Linked DNA regions of Homo sapiens: region 2 is linked to region 1. Evidence: fine-mapped expression QTL. Tissue or cell type: whole blood. Region 1 holds a variant in brackets; the other region holds the start of a gene. All regions are shown on one strand. Distances are between the middles of the regions.

What was found. PIP is the estimated chance that this variant, and not a neighbour inherited with it, causes the effect.
Region 2: RASSF5 starts here. The variant in region 1 is fine-mapped to the expression of RASSF5 in whole blood (TOPMed, PIP 0.92).

What each region holds. Positions count from the first base shown.
Region 1 is chr1:206,573,078-206,581,179 of GRCh38, forward strand. All of the region lies in intron 2 of RASSF5 (Ras association domain family member 5), which reads left to right. It also overlaps a transcript of EIF2D not described here. Among named protein-coding and RNA genes, the nearest start is that of EIF2D, 35 kb to the right of the region's middle. RefSeq lists an enhancer at 2,781-2,830. The variant AC/A (reference allele first, on the strand shown) is at 5,038.
Region 2 is chr1:206,502,845-206,510,946 of GRCh38, forward strand. It overlaps RASSF5 (Ras association domain family member 5), which reads left to right and starts at 4,687. Exons shown (of 6, transcript NM_182663.4): 1 at 4,687-5,215. The coding sequence starts at 4,759. LOC124904493 (a long non-coding RNA gene) reads right to left here and starts at 4,563. Exons shown (of 2, transcript XR_007066830.1): 1 at 4,022-4,563; 2 at 575-2,276. RefSeq lists enhancers at 1,576-1,625, 1,656-1,705 and silencers at 4,303-4,352, 4,603-4,962, 5,003-5,092.

The sequences.
Region 1 (8,102 bases):
TATGGAGTGCTTACTGTGTACTTTGTGCTAAGCACTTTGAGGCCTGAGATCTCATTTCATCTTCACAACAAATGTATAAACTGCATTTCACAAAGAAATCAGTCTCCGTGTGGTGGCTCATGCCTGTAATCCCAGCACTTTTGGAGGCCGAGGTGGGCGGACTGCTTGATTTTTTACCTTCACATCAATCCCGTGAGGCAATAAAGGATTTTTATCCCAAATTTATAGATGAAGAAACTGAGGCATATAGATTTTCTGACTTTCTCAAGACCATGTAGTGAGTAATAGGAGTCAGAAGCCAAATACACACTCATGTTCATCCTGCAGGTATTTACTGAATCTCTGCTATGTGTCAAGCTGGCACTGGGATCTGGGACGCCATAGAGGGCAAGACAGGCACGGGTGCTTCTCTCACGGAACTCAGTATAAATGGAAATCCAAGGCTCACTACTGCACTGTAATTCCTAGGAGAAATTAAGACCTCAAGAACCACTGAAGCAAGTATTGAGCAAGTATTTCCTATTTGCCTCATGTTCAGAGCCACCAGGCATAGAGAAGTAGTAGCAGTGGATGTAAGTCATTAAAGAGCTTCAGTCTAGTTGGGAAGAAGACCCGAGATGGATGGTCTACTTGGAAGTTAATATAAGTAGCCAGGCGTAGTGGCTCACGCCTGTAATCCCAGCATTTTGGGAGGCCAAAGCGGGAGGATCACTTGAGGCCAGGAGTTTGAGACCAGCCTGGGCAATATAGTGAGAGCCCCATCTCTTAAAAAAACAAAATAGAAATCGGAGTCTTAGTGAGGTGGACTTGATCAAGTTCACAGAAGACCAAGGGCATGGCCAGCACAGGCCACCTGTGGCCCAGCGTGCAAGGCAGCATGGTCTAATGGTGAAGAGTAACAGCATCTTTCTTGTTATTTAGGGGATTAAATGAGATCAGGACCTTGAACCCTTCAGGGCAGTGCCTGACTACTGTCGGTTTTTAATATTATAATGAGGCTCTGCAGGGGCTTGAACTTAGGTCCCTGTAAGGGAGCTACTGTTCCCTGGTATAACCCACTCTAGCTGAGCTGTGCAGAGACTGAGATGGTCACCTCAAAGAGCAGGGGACCCCGTGTCCAGACTCTGGGGCATGCTGGCAACCTGAGGAGTCTGCGGGAGTGGCCTGATCTGTGCTGCTTGAGGCTTTTTGTCCCAGATCACACTGTACTTGCTCTGGTGTGCCACAGCGCATCCATCTCTGTCTTCCCTTCTCAGGTCACCTGCAGACTCCCAAGGACAGGGTCACATCCCATCTGCGTCATCTCTCAAGGTGCCTTTCACGATCCTCACCCATAGGCAGTTCATTCAGTTACTACTGGCGGACTGTTGACATTGACCATCTGCTCTACGTTTTTGTCTTTGGAGACTTGAGTCTCTTTCCATTCTCAACCTCCACCCGCCACCTCTTTTTTCCCTCTGCTCTGTTAATACACCCTACCAGAGCTGCTCAAATTCCACATGGAGCAGAAGCTCCATGATAAAGCCCCTTCCCTGCTCTGCTGCAAATAACCTATTAGGGAACACAGTTAAGGAGTTCCCAACCCTTTTAATTTTGGGACAATGGACAGTGCCATAGAGGGACCTGTGGAAATCAACCCCTTCACTGCTGTGGTGGGTCTGTGGAGTCCATTTCAGAACACAGGCCTTCGAAGACCTGGGAGGGGGCCCTGCAGTAAGGCCCCATAGGGATTCCTCTTTCTCATTTGGTTGAGACCATCACAAAGGGACCAATGACTTTTTTTTTTTTTTTTTTTTTTTTGAGATGGAGTCTCGCTCTGTCATCCAGGCTGGAGTGCAGTGGCGCAATCTTGGCTCAATGCAACCTCTGCCTCCCAGGTTCAAGCGATTCTTCCGCCTTAGCCTCCCGAGTAGTTGGGATTACAGGCGCACGGATAATTTTTTTGTTTTTGTTTTTGTTTTTTTTTTTAGAAGAGACAGGGTTTCATTATGTTGCCCAGGCTGGTCTTGAACTCCTAACCTCACCTTTGAATGCGGTTTGGACATTGAGCAGGGTATTTCAAATCCAGCCCAGATAGATGGGTGTCTGCCCCTTGCCTGCAGACGTTCCCATCTAGGGCAAGCACAACAGAAGCACCGGGTGTTTGGGGTGTGGAAGGCAGCTGCAGATGGACATTCTCCTGTAGGAGGGGCCTGAGGCTTTCCTCCCTGACTTAAGCCTGGAGATGGCTTCCTTCCAAGGGGTGAAAGAATTGCTGCTGACAGATTTGCTAAGAGCTGAGAAAGAGGAAATGTGGCAAAGGCTCATGGTGAATGGCTTCCGGGGTATTTTTTGTTTTGTTTTCTTGAGTTGTGTGTGTTAAGAATGCGTAGACCGGCTTGGGCTTGGCTAAGATAGAGTCTTGCTGACAATAGAGAAAAGTGGTGAGCAGTGAAAAAGTAAAGTCGTGGCGGTTAGAAATGTTCTTTGTGCTCCTTTAGATTGGTTATTCCTGCTGCCATTCAGCCATGCTAGCTAGCCTCCAAGAGGCCCCCATCTCCACACCCAATTCTCTGAAATAGAAGAGGAAGCAATGATGAGAAAAAAACACCACCCTATCTTATGTGTAAAATCTTAGTCCTGCGAAGGGGCCCTTAGAGCTTCTCCAGTATCACTTCATGATTTCACAGATAAGGAAACTGAGGCCCTGAGAGGGGAAGTAGCTCCCCAGACGTCACAGGTCATTTGATGGTCTTGCATTTGTTCTCATCAGCTAGCTGCCAAGAGCTGAGCCACACGGCTAACGCCAAAGTCCAAAGCCTGGTGTGTGTTCTTGGTATCAGACCCTCAGGGTGCAGCTGAGTGTGAGGTGCTCCTGGACCTAGGGGTCTGGGGTGGGCTCTGGCCTGAGACTCCCCAGGCTGTCTTGCCCTCCCCTGCCACCCAATCAACAGGTATTTATCTGACACCTACTTAAAGTTTGGCCCAGGTTTCAGCCAAGCGGGGTGCCAAAAAGCTTAGGCACCAAACTAATGTCTGCCTCCATCCAGAGAGCATCTCACTGGGGAGATGGGATTAACATGTGAAACAATCATTAAACAATAAAAGGCAGCATATAATTAGATGCCAGCTGTAGCCACACAGGCTCTGAAATCACCTCTATAGGCTCTTGCAGTATGGATTTAACATTAGCCAGCAGCTGCAGAGATCTGTGACGATGGTAATTTGTACTTTTGCTGCAATGGGAATCTGAGGCTTTGAGGCCATGGGGCTGGTGTTTGGGAGCGAGTCACAGAACCAGGGGGTGAGCCTAGCTGTCTACCTCCATCCCTACCCCAGCCAGCTTTGTTGCCTCCTCATTGCAGAATGGAGTAAAGTGAGCAAAATCCAAGGAAGTGCCCAAGCCTTTGTCTTCTTGTGAAAAGTGTCCATGAAATGAGAGTGAAGTTACAAAGGCCCATTAACTGGTGGTGTGAGGAAATACACAGGAAACATAGGAAGTATGATTCAGGAGAAAGAGAGACCAGGACAAAACTGTGATTACCTTTCTCCATGTGGGAATCAAAATGCCAGGGATCTGGTACATTAAGAGAGCAGAGGATGGAGAGATGGCTATAGACTGGAGAAATTGCATTGGGAAACTACATAGAGAAGGTGGAACTAGGGCTAATAGTGTTCTAGGCAGGAGACTCTGCACAAACAACAGCATAGAGCAAACTACTGCACATGGCCAGGTTCCATAAATAAAGTTTGTTTTGTTTTTGAGACAGGGTCTTGCTCTGTCACCTAGGCTGGAGTGCAGTGGCACAATCACGGCTCACTGCAGCCTTGAACTCCTGGGGGCTCAGGTCATTCTCCCACCTCAGCCTCCTGAGTAGCTGGCACTACAGGTGCACTTCACTGTGCCCAGCTAATTTTTGTATTTTTTTTTTTTTGTAGAGACAGGGTCTCACTATGTTGCCCAGACTGGTCTCGAACTCCTGGGCTCAAGCGATCATCCTGCCTTGGCCTCTCAAAGTGCTGGGATTGTAGGTGTGAGCCACCATGCCAGGCCCATAAATAGTTTTACTGGAACCCAGTCACACTCATCCAGTAGCTGCTTTTGTGCCACAATAGTAGAGTTGAATAGTGGCAACAGACTGCGTGGCCTGCAAAACCTAACATTTACTGTCTGACCCTTTACAGAAAAAGTTTGCCAACCACTGGTGCAGAGAAAGGAATTAACAAACTCTATGGGCATGTGGCCAATCAGAAGAAGGACTCAAGGAAAATGAAAACTGAAATTGGCTCAGAGGGGTAGAACTTTGCTTTCCTGGGATGATAGTCACCATACATGCCTTTGAATGGGTTTGGTGATTTTCAGAACACTTTTGTACCCATTATCTCATTTGATTTTTACCTTCACATCAATCCTGTGAGACAATAAGGGATTTTTATCCCAAATGTATAGATGAAGAAACTGAGGCTTAGAGATTATCTGACTTTCTCAAGATCATGTAGTTAGTCATGGGAGTCAGAAGCCCAACACACACTTGTGTTCATCCTGCAGGTACTTAACCCCTACTATGTGTCAAGCTGGCACTGGGATCTGGGACACCATAGAGGACAAGACAGGCGTGGGTGCTTCTCTCACAGAACTCAGTCTAAATGGAAATCCAAGGCTCACTGCACTGTAATTCCTAGAAGAAATTAAGACCTTTTTTGTCCACTGTAGGCAATAGGGGATCATTGAAGGTTCTTGAGCAAGTATTTCCTATTTGCCTCATGCTCAGAGGCACCAGGCACAGAGAACAAATTGAAGTATGATGTAAGTCATTAAAGAGCTTTAGTCTAGTTGGGAAGAAGACCTGAGATGGATGAGTCTACTTGGAGGTTAATGTAAGCAGCCAGGCGCGGTGGGTCACACCTGTAATCCTGGCACTTCGTGAGGCTGAAGTGAGAGTATTGCTTGAGGCCAGGAGTTTGAGACCAGCCTGGGCAACATAGCAAGGCACCTCATTTCTACAAAAAAATAAAAAAAATTAGCCAGGAGTGTGGCACATGCTTGTAGTCCCAGCT[AC/A]ATGGGAGGCTGAGGCAGGAGGATTGCTTGAGCCTAGGAGGTCGAGGCTGCAGTGAGTTGTGATTGCACCAGTGCACTCTCGACTGGGTGACAGAGGGAGACATCTCAAAAAAAAAAAGTGTGTGTGTGTGTGTGTGTGTGTGTGTGTAAGTAGATGCTTACTTAAGTGCCAGATAGTATAGTGTTGCCTTTAGATGTAGGTTAGCTTTAACCTTCCTGTGGCTCACTTTCCTTGACTGTAAAATGAGCATCATAATAGTATTTTTTGTGACACATTTGCTGTGATGATGAAATGAGCTAATACATGCTAAGTGAGTAGAATAGTGCACGGTACATATTAGCTGTAGTGAATCATCGTCATCATTCAGGGCTGGAGTGATCAGGAAGAGCTTGACAAATAAAGTGACTTCTGATGGGCAAACAGGTGTGAGATGATTCAAATCGTGGGCCAGAAGGAGGAAAGACTGACAAATTTAAAAAGAGTGAGAGTGAATTTTTTAGCAAAAATTAGGTTTGTGATTTTGGTCAAGAAAAAGTAGGCACGGATGTATATAATAGCTGCAGTACTGCCGGTGGGACACACGTCCTCCTCAGCCCACCCTCATCCTGGGGACCCCCTCTCATTGCCACAGCATTCCTGGGTGCCCTGGGCCCACCTGGGAATACCAGAAGCCACGTGACTCACTCAGAGCCTCTCCTTAGGGCATTAGGTCACTCTCCAGTCACCAAAATTAAGATTACATATGTCATTGATTAGAGTGCAGAAGTAGGGTTTTGTTGCTGTTGCTTTAGTGATAAAATAAAGAAAAACAGCTTAGGGCAAATCTGCCCTGAGTTAGGCCCCAGACGAAAGGGGTATGGTCCTCCTTATTTTGTTAAGAATATTTAAATGGAAGCATTAGAGAATCACTCAGGGTCGGGGTGTCGCTGTGAACCCCTAGCACCCAGCCTCTTTACATGGCTGTTCCCCAATCACCTCCAGAGCTAAAAGAAGACATTGCCCTTTTCCACCGCATAGGACATGTGAGCACAAACCTGTTTTTCACCAGTGCCCTGGACATGCCAAGTGCATTGGGAACAGCTCAGCCATCTGCCACCAATGCCAGGGGCTTAATCGGAATAGATGAATTCCATGCCAGATGCACTGAGATGTGTGAGCCCCCAGGAGAGACACCTCACATGCCAATGTCTATATTTGTTAAATCATAACAGAGTTCCCTATTCTGTCTCTATCTTGGGCCACCCCAAGAGGCAAAACTGTCTGCTTGGTTTCTCGCTTTGTACCCGTGGACAGATCCTTAAGAATCTGGCAGGTGAATAGGAATCAGAGTCTTTGTCTTATCCTCTGAAGATTGCTATAGTATCGATCTCGCTCTCATGGCAGATAGTGCCTGTTAGGTAAACCTTTGGGGTGTTTGTGTGTTTCTTGGCACCAAGTGTTAATTCAGCAGCTGGATGAAGACCCTTGAGGTCTGGAATTGTTGTGAGGGGTCTGTCTATTTCAGTTCTTTTCGAATGTTGCTGCGAATTAAAATCAACTAGGAGATTTTTAAAATTCCCATGCCCAGACTGCACCCCAGACCAATTAAATCAGAATCTCCAGGGATGAAGCCCAGGCAGCTAAGTTTCTAAAGATCCCCCAGATGATTGCACTGTGCAGACAAGTTTAAGAACCACTGGTCTGGATTATACGCCATCTCTTGGGTGGAAAAAGGATCCGTGAGCCCTCGTGGCTGTGGCTGGCTGGCCTAATTCAGGAGGTGATTCATTTGGTCCATGGGTCACATCTTGTCTGCCAGATATTTTTGTGGGCAGCAGCCATCCCAGACCTGGGTGCTGGCATTCCATGGCTGTGACATTCGTAGTGTTGGCTACACACGGGGCTCCTGGCACTCCCAGACAGGGCTTCCCATCACCAGCCAGAGGGCCAGGCCTCAGAATGGTGAGGTCAGGGCTGCTGTCTTTTGAGTCAGCCCTGGAAGGCAGAGGTGCCTGTGGCCACTTGCGTCACTTCCCCGCGTTTGTGGTGGGAAGGGGAGAGATAGATGGGTCTATCTGCTGAAGAAAGGGGAACAGGAAGAAGAAACCCTAGGCTAAGGCAGCTTTGCTTCTCACTGTATTCAAAATCAAGCCTTTGAAAGCCACAGCACAGCTGCCTTTTCTTACGGGGAAATGGCTCTAGCTTGATTGGAAACTATGAGAGGAGATCTTTCCGAAGCTTCTAGAATTTTCTTTCCATTACTTATTTTTTATAGACAAGTATGAGAAAGCTATTACCTCCTGAGGAGCAATAGCCTACATGCGTCAGAGACAGAGTGAGTGTATAATAGTAACCAGACAACGGGGTCTTTCTAATTAGAAGCTCCCAGCGGGAAGGTATAGGGGTAGGGCCAGGGTCAGGCACATCTGGTCCCATAGACATGTGCTCAGCTGGCAAGGACTGAGGATGGGGAGCTCTGGGAGCTACCCAAGGGAAGGGATGAGGAAAATGAGAGGCTTCACTGTGAGAGTCCCCGGGTTAATGGACTGACAGTGAATGAAGAGAGTCTGTGAGGCTCACACTACTTGCTACTCACCTCCGGCAAGTGGGAGATGGCCAGAGCTGCTTGCCCTTGGGTGGTCTGCAACAGAATCAAGGTTCAGTTCCAGAGACCTGGGAAGGCACACAGGAGAAGGCTGGGCCCTGCATCCTGGTGGCTGCATCTCACTTGAGTTAGAAGTCCTTCCTTCCCACCTTCACAGGTGACATGGTGCCTCTGGGGCCTGACCCGCTGCTTAGACTCATCTTAGATGAACATTTCACAGATCAGGTAACTTACAGGCTTTGGTTTAACAGCTGCTCATCCCAGCCCCGCAGCACAGAGTTTCAGTGATCATTATGGGTGTGGCAGGCCGGCCCCTTCAGCAAAAGATGCCGTCCCATGGTGGCTACATGGTGAATTGAGAAGAGCATGGGCCTTAGATGGATTTGATTCCAGTTCCTACTTAGCTTCTTACTAGCAGGGGACCACAGGCATGTTTCTTAAACTCAGCCTCAGTTTTGTTATCTGTGAAATAAGAATGA
Region 2 (8,102 bases), 70 kb before region 1:
GTCATGGTCCCTGCTCTCAGTCTAGTAATGTAAAATATTACTGACCCCCATCACACATTGCAAGCAGCACTCACTTCTTTGGAAAGCTGAGCTCTGCATGCAACATGCTGCCCAAGAAGGAAAGGAAGCAGCACTGGAGACCTGTGTTTCATAGCTAACCAAGATAAGGGCATTTTTTTCCAAATGTCTGTGGAGGGGGTCACACCATTTTAACTATTTACTGCTGTAACCCCATTTTTAAAGTGTAGTCTGTGAGCCATCTGAATCAAAGTCTCTTGCAAAATCCCGGCCAAAATCCAGACATACTGAATCAGAGGGTCAGGTCCCAGAATAGGCATTTTGAACAAACTCAGGTTCATAAAGCTTGAAAAGTTTTTGGGGCTGTTGTGCCTGTTGTTCTCTTAGTCTGGGACACTCTTGTCCAGATTGACAAAGGGCTTGCTTCATTCAGATCTGCTTAAATGTCTGCTCCTCAGAAAGGTCTTTCCTGACTACTCAATCTAATAGAGTAGCCTCTATCACCTTCATCCCCTTAATGTGCTTGATTTTTCATCAAAGTGCTTACAACCTGATATCATATTACTCTTGTGTCTGTTTATTGTCTGGCTCTTTCACTAAATGCAAGCTTCATGAACATATCCATTTCACTGTTGTACCTTTAGTGCCTAGAACAGTGCTTGATACATAGTGGATATCAGAGAATTACTCATTAAATGAATGAATAACTGCTCTATGCCCTTGAAGATTGCACTGGCCATTAGCGCTGATTGCCAAATATTTCCAGCCCTTTCCCCTTCTGAGCACAAGGTAGAATTTTACATCTGCTCCTGTTTGTAGAGTGGGGTCATATGACTAGTTCTGGCCAATAAGCTGTGAGCAAAAGTGACTGGAGCTTTTAAATGCTGATGTGGGATCCTCCAGGCTCTCTCAATCTCCCTTTGGCACAGTGACTGGCAATATTAGACATGGTGAGTCTGATGAGAAGAGAGCACCTGCCAACCTGCAAAAGGCATGTAATGTGAGCGAGAAAGGAGTCTGTTATTTCAGGGCACTCAGCTGTGGAGCTTATTACTACAGCATAACCTAACTTGTCCTGACTCTTACAGTGATTCCATGTAGACAGTTGTGCAACTGTCAGAATCCCTGGGAGTTCCCTGAAAGCTTCGGGGATTTCAGGCGACTTCAGACGCCTCAAAGTCAAACAAAACCAAAAATGTCCCCTTCAGGAAGTCAGGCCATGTTCTGTCCTTCCGTTTTCCTTCTTACTAGGGAACTTGGGGAGGGAGGCTGGGCGGCAGCAGTTAAACAACTCACCCAATGGGAAAACCAGCACGCTCTGGGACCACCTCTGAAGTGATCTCACACCCTGACCACACACTCTAAACTCACTGTCATAATCCTTCCCCTTGGTCAAAAATAAAAGCAGCACACCCACTCTGCTGGGAGTGAGTCACAAACAGAAAAAAGTCAATGGGTCTGAGCCAAGAGGATCTACTAACAAGGGGAAAGATCTCCCAGTGGAGGTGTTTCAGCGGATGCTGCGGTCTTACCCTTGTAGCCTGGATGACCAGACAGATCAAAAAAAATGTTAAAGTCCAGGCATCTGACACTACCCCAGCAATGTCCTGAGCTTATAATGAGACTAGAGTTTCTTTAGCACTTCTTCCCTGGGGAAGAAGGAATACTCTGCTGTTCATGTGGGGTGTGTGTGTGTGTGTGTGTGTGTGTGTGTGTGCATGGGAGCAAGAAAGAAGTCTATGTGTGTGTCGTGGGTTGGTGGGGAAATGCTATTTCAAGGAAGAAGGGGACTGGGCTGGGAAAACTGGCATCAGAGGAGACATGCCCCAGCCAGGGAGCCTCACATTGAGGTTAAGAAGGGCAACTGCCCGCCCCAACTCTAATTTCTTGGCTCAAGGAGATGAACTTTAAGATAAACTTTATGATAAATTTTTTGATTGGTTACATGGAGTTATATGATTAATATCTCCATTTTCATCTCTTTTCCCACCCCAGAAGCCAAATATAGGGCTCTGGCCCTGCACAATCTCCTCCCACATTCATGCTAAGAGCAGCCACTGCCACTCCACCAAATCAGAGCTGCAGGAGGAAAACAAAAACTAGAGCATTTTTCTGTACAGCCCAGACAACTGGGGAAGAGTTTTATGCCTGATGGTTTCAGATAGCCCTCAGTTTCCCGTGGCCAGAGATGACGCTCCTCCTCATGAGTCTCTCTATCCAGGAAATCTGGGCTGGGCTGCCCAAACCATGCTTTGAGGCTGCAGGGAAGGACAGAGATGGAGACTGTTAGCAATTATTTCACAAATGGCTTTTCAAAGCCGATCTTCCAGGGATGCACTTGTTGTCAGATCCCTGCTGCTTCTTGCCCCACCAGGCTGTCACTCAGAGCTCAAGCTGTTTCCATGCCCAGGACCTCACCCACCCACTGCACTCCAGGAAGGGGATGAGTCTCAAGTGTGTGGAGATGGGTAACAGAGTGTGGACACAGCAAATATTTATATGGAATACAGATTTCTGCAACAACCCCAAGAGAACTGCTTGCAGAAAAAGTGGGAGATTAAAATAAGAGACCACAAGGGCAAATTGTATTTTCCCTTTTACACCTTCAGCAGAAAGTATTCAGGAATAGCCCTCATTGGGCTTTTATCTGTCAGGTCCACTGAAGTACACTTGTCCTGGGGAGAAGGAACAGAGAAGCCCATTCTCAGAATCACCACCTCAGACCTAGAGCAATGGTTTTCCAAGTTGGGTCCCTGGATCAATAGCATCAACACCTGGGAACTTGCTCAAAATGAGCCATCTCAAACCCCAGCCCCAGACCTATAGATTCTGAAACTTTGGGGATGAAGCCCAATAATCTTAACAAGCCCTCCAGATGACTGTGATGCATACCAAGGTTTGAAAACCACTGATGTAGCAAAAGCAAGGTTAGGAGAGGGAAGAGGAAAGGTAGAGGAGGGGTGGGGCAGAGGCGGTGGCCTGTGGCTTACACCCCTCATCGGAGCTCCTCTGTTTGGTAGCACTGTGGGGTTGACTGTCCCATGGGTCATTCCTCAGAAACCACCTCATAGGGTGAGCTCCCGCCTCTGGTGAGCCCCCAGAGCCCCAGGAACCTCTCTTCTGCTACAGATTTGGGAGGCAGAGGACTATGATTACCGTGAGGGAGAAGCCATGGAGCAAAGCTGGCTGGGAATTCCCTGGCCACTGGACTCTGGAAATCTTAGGAATTACCTAAAAATTACCTCCAAGGGAAAAACAAAAAGCAAAAGTGAAGATTCCCCTACGAAGCACTAGGGGGAGACCCATCTCTGGCCTGGGAAGAGAAGGGAGAGACCAGGTCCAGAAGAATTTAGACTATTCTTCTAAAAAATGACCACCGCTAGACGGACCAAACCGAACCTGTGTTTTAAGAGGAAAGCTGTGATCACTGAGTCATAATGACGGAGCTGGAGAGTGCCACGTTAACAACCACCTGTCTCCCCACCTCCAGCCCAATGTACAGTTAACAATACTGGGGCTAGAGAGGGCCAGGGCCCAGGCCCAGGTTCAGAGATCCAGGAGTCCTCCTTATCCATAAGATGGGCCTGTTTCCATGGGCAAAGGTGCCTGTCAGGAACAACTACATAATTTGTGGGAACCAGTGCAAAAAGAAAACGCCTGGCCCTTTGTTCAAAAAGTAAGACTTTCAAGATGGTGACCGCAGAGCGTTAAACCAGACAAGGGTCCATGAAGGCTTGAAGCAAGCCTTCACGGGGGAAAGTGCCGGGAGAAAGGAGATCTCTCTTTGGGTCCCATGAGTGAACCATCCATACCAGGTTCCACTTAGGGCATTTAGGGGAACTGGTATCTCCACAGTAATTACTAGAGCAGCTCTGGGGAACGGAGGGTTGGCTAAGGAAGAAAAGCTCCCCCAACCCTTGGGGCGAGGGAGCGTTCTCTCAATGGAGCCCCCCCAACTCCCCTCCACCCCCCACCAGTCTTCCAGGAAAGAGGAATACCCTACCCGGCAGGGCTGCGAAGGAAGGGGAAATCCAACCAGAGCGAAAGTCGCACGCGGACAGCTCTGCCAGCCCTTGGAGGCATCCGGCGGTCACCCACGGGACAAAGCGCGGCTGCGGGAGCGCGCGCGGGGCATTCCGGACCCGCGTCGAGCTCCGCTCTAGAGGGGGCGGCGGGCGGCGACAAGCCGGAGAGAGGAAGGGCCAAGGAGCACGGCCCTCCTGTCGGCACCATCAGCGGGAGAGTGGCGAGCGGACGCCTAGACGGAGGGGCCCTACTCAGACCCCATCGAGCCAGTTCCCAAGCTTTTCCCTCCGACCTGCTCCCTCCCGGGGCGCGTGAGGGTGCGGGTCGGGGGTGAACCTGGTGTTGGGGAAAGTGATTGGCAAGGGAAAGAGGCAGGGCTGAAGGCCTAGGGCCCCCCGCAGAAATGCGCCCTCTGAGCTGTACTGTACAGAGGCGCTCCTCTGCGGAATCCTGCAGCTGCTCCAGGTGAAGACGCCCCCAAATCCACACTCGCGCAGACGTCGCCTGGCACGGACCCTACCCCCTTCGGTCCGTCGGCGGTTCTCTTGGGTCGTCCTTCCTGCCACTCCGACTCTCCCCGCCCCCGCCCCGCCCAGCAGGCTGCGGTTCCTTTAAAGGCGCGCTGGTGTGGGGCGGCCCCTTCTCTCGGGGCTGGCTCGGGAGTAGCGCAGTCGCCAAAGCCGCCGCTGCCAAAGCTGCCGCCACTAGCCGGGCATGGCCATGGCGTCCCCGGCCATCGGGCAGCGCCCGTACCCGCTACTATTGGACCCCGAGCCGCCGCGCTATCTACAGAGCCTGAGCGGCCCCGAGCTACCGCCGCCGCCCCCCGACCGGTCCTCGCGCCTCTGTGTCCCGGCGCCCCTCTCCACTGCGCCCGGGGCGCGCGAGGGGCGCAGCGCCCGGAGGGCTGCCCGGGGGAACCTGGAGCCCCCGCCCCGGGCCTCCCGACCCGCTCGCCCGCTCCGGCCTGGTCTGCAGCAGAGACTGCGGCGGCGGCCTGGAGCGCCCCGACCCCGCGACGTGCGGAGCATCTTCGAGCAGCCGCAGGATCCCAGAGTCCCGGCGGAGCGAGGCGAGGGGCACTGCTTCGCCGAGTTGGTGCTGCCGGGCGGCCCCGGCTGGTGTGACCTGTGCGGACGAGAGGTGCTGCGGCAGGCGCTGCGCTGCACTAGTAAGTGTGAAGGCAGGGGAGGGGCGTGCGGGGAGACCGCAGTCTGGGGGCGAAGGACTGGGAGGGCCCTGGGGCAGGGAGAGAGGGGCCATTACACTCTTTGGCTCCAGGGGAGCCCCGAACATAAGGAGATAACAACCCCTGGGGACAGTCCGCTCCTTAGTTCCCTGCCCGGTATCCTTTAGTGCCTGCCCACTACCTAGGTATGGTTATGCGGTAGTTAACAGATACCTGTCTCCTGACAGGTGCGTGCCTTGGCCCTCCACACACACACACACACACACACACACACACACTCGCACACAGGTTGTGGGGGGTGGGTGGGTGATGGCCTCGGCGGCCTCTGTCATCTCCCTGTGCACCCTCATGGTTTTGTTGTGAGTTCTTGGGAGTGGGTTGTGAGACTGCTGTTGAGATGACCGTTTGACCCTTGCTTATTAGGGTTACTGACAAAACGCTTGTTTGTCCGCCCATGGTACAGGCTCAGACCTCTCCTCCAGGGGGACGTATTGGGACAGGGAGGAGACCTTGTTAGATTTTGGATAAAGGCAGGCTGTGAGGCTGAAGAGAGCCTGAAGTCACCCTGAACCCGTGCCCCCTCCTGCCTTTCACCTCTGGCCCCTCAAACCTTTGGACTCTGCTCCAATGTTTGGCTGTGCCCTGCCTCCTCCCCTTCCTCCTCCTGGGTTCCTGCCCTAGTCGTCATGCTCTAACATTACTCAGCTCCTGACAGGGTCCCTTCCTCTCCACAGCCCTCAGGCCCCTCCAGTCACCTCCTGAGCCAGGCGCTTCTCAAAGCCAGAAAACACTGGGCCCCCAGTGTATAGATTTTCTGAGCCAATCTTCAGTCTCCTTGGGGGTTTATTATTTTTCTCCTCCTACAGTTAGGGGTGTGTATGCCTTTAATAGGTGTCCACCCTCCACCCCCACCCCGGCATTTGCTCTTGCGTGTTTATCAGAGGATATCCACAGCCATGTGTTCATGTGTTTACATGGATATTTCAAATATCTGAAGCCCAAAGCACAGACAATGGCACAGCCTCTAACAAGCATCTCTGGAAATGGATTGTGGTTTGCATCTTTCAGCAAAGGCCCTTCCCCTATGGCAGCAGCCTCACGTCTCCCATCCAACTGCAGCGTTGGACAGCAGCAGTGATTTCCACATCAGGAAAACCCTACCCTTTTTCTGCCTGCAGTCTGCAGCGGAGGCTGTTCAATGTGCTGCCCGCTGCAGCTGGCTGCAGGGAAATAGAACTCAGACACTAAGCCTGGGTCAAGTGGAAGGGAAAGATTGGAAGGGCAAGTGGGTGCTGCTCTTTCCTCCACCAGAACCCCCAGTTCAGGTGCTAATTAAGAAGGAAGGAGTAAAGGTTTGTAGAGGTACATGTTGTGGGTAGAGGGGCTGCTGTCCCTTGGTAAATGCCTTTGACTACAGTAGAATCAAATGCAACTTATCCTTGGATGTGTTGGCAGCTTTTGCACTTTCAAGATTCCCTTACTGCATCCAACAACCCTACACACAGGGAGAGAGGCAGGAGCCTCACTGAAATGGGTTTTATCATAGCTGGAATCCCAGGAAATCTGCTTCGTTGGCATTCTAGTTTGTAGTTAGACTTTGGGGGACTGTATCACTTGTTGAAGATTTTGCACATAGTTTTGTGATTTTCTTTTTTTTTTTTGGTTTGGTGATAATGGTGCGTTTGTGTGTATTTGCGTGTGCCTGTGTGTGATACTCCATGACTAAATGAATTGATCCTTACGTCACATCAGAATTGTCGATCTCCTTTGATTAAGTCATACGTCGTTTCTAGTGGCAGGAAGATCTAGGCCCCCGGGCAGTACCTCTGACTTTGTGTGTGACTTGGTGAGGTCTTTTTACTTTCCTGGGCGCTCATGGTCCCCCACAGAGTTGGTTTAATGCTAACGATGTCTGAACACTGGAGAGAAAGCAAAACTGGAATCGAGGGGCTACAGAAAGGAGTCTCTGTTTGTCATGATTAATATTTAACTAATTGTGAACCTATGGCTGGATGGCAAAAGTTGAGAAATGTTCTGATGTGCAGATGAGGGCTGGCAGGTGGAGACACAGCAGGCCAAACTCGCTGAGCATCTTTCTTTAAGTTGAAGGTCTGATTCCATGGTGAGGTTGCTTTGTTTTATCTTCATTTTGAAAAGCAAGTGTCAGAAATAGGACTTTAAAAAAAATCATACTATGCAGTAGTTAAGAGTACAGACTGGAACCAGAGCCCTGGGTTTGAATCCTGACTACCACTTAGTCCCCACGTGAGTCCTGGACATCTCTGTGTTCTGCTTCTTTGTTTAAAAAAAATAGGATAATGATATTACCTACTTCATCATGTTAATCTGAGAATTAAATGGATTAATATACATAAGGCACTCAGAACAGGGCCTAGCAAAATGCAATACGAATGTTTAATTCGATATGATTGTTATTGTCCCCTCCCATCTAACAGCTGTAACAACTAGTCTGGGCTTGTGACACCTCCTAGGATTACCTTTCGAAGCAGTGAGTACAATTTGCGAACTCTGCCTGGTTGCTGAGCTAAGTGGGGAAGTGACTGCCATAGACATCCCAGAAAATTTGGGTATTAGGTGTCCTCTAGAAATGCCACTCCTACCTGATGTCCTGCTGTGGCTGAGGAGACCCTTCTTTGCCTGGCATAGGGGCCACGAAGCCATTGGCTCCTTGTCTTTGTGTTTCTTGCACCCAGCAGAGTGCCAGGCCCAGAGCAGGGTCTCACTATGTGGTGAGTGATGAAAGTGATGGCTTGTTTGTGCTATTAAATATCCCAGCCCTTGGAAACAAGCAGGAGGGCAGTGGGTATGTGAGTGACATCTGTCTGCCCAGGAGACTGACACTGGGTGG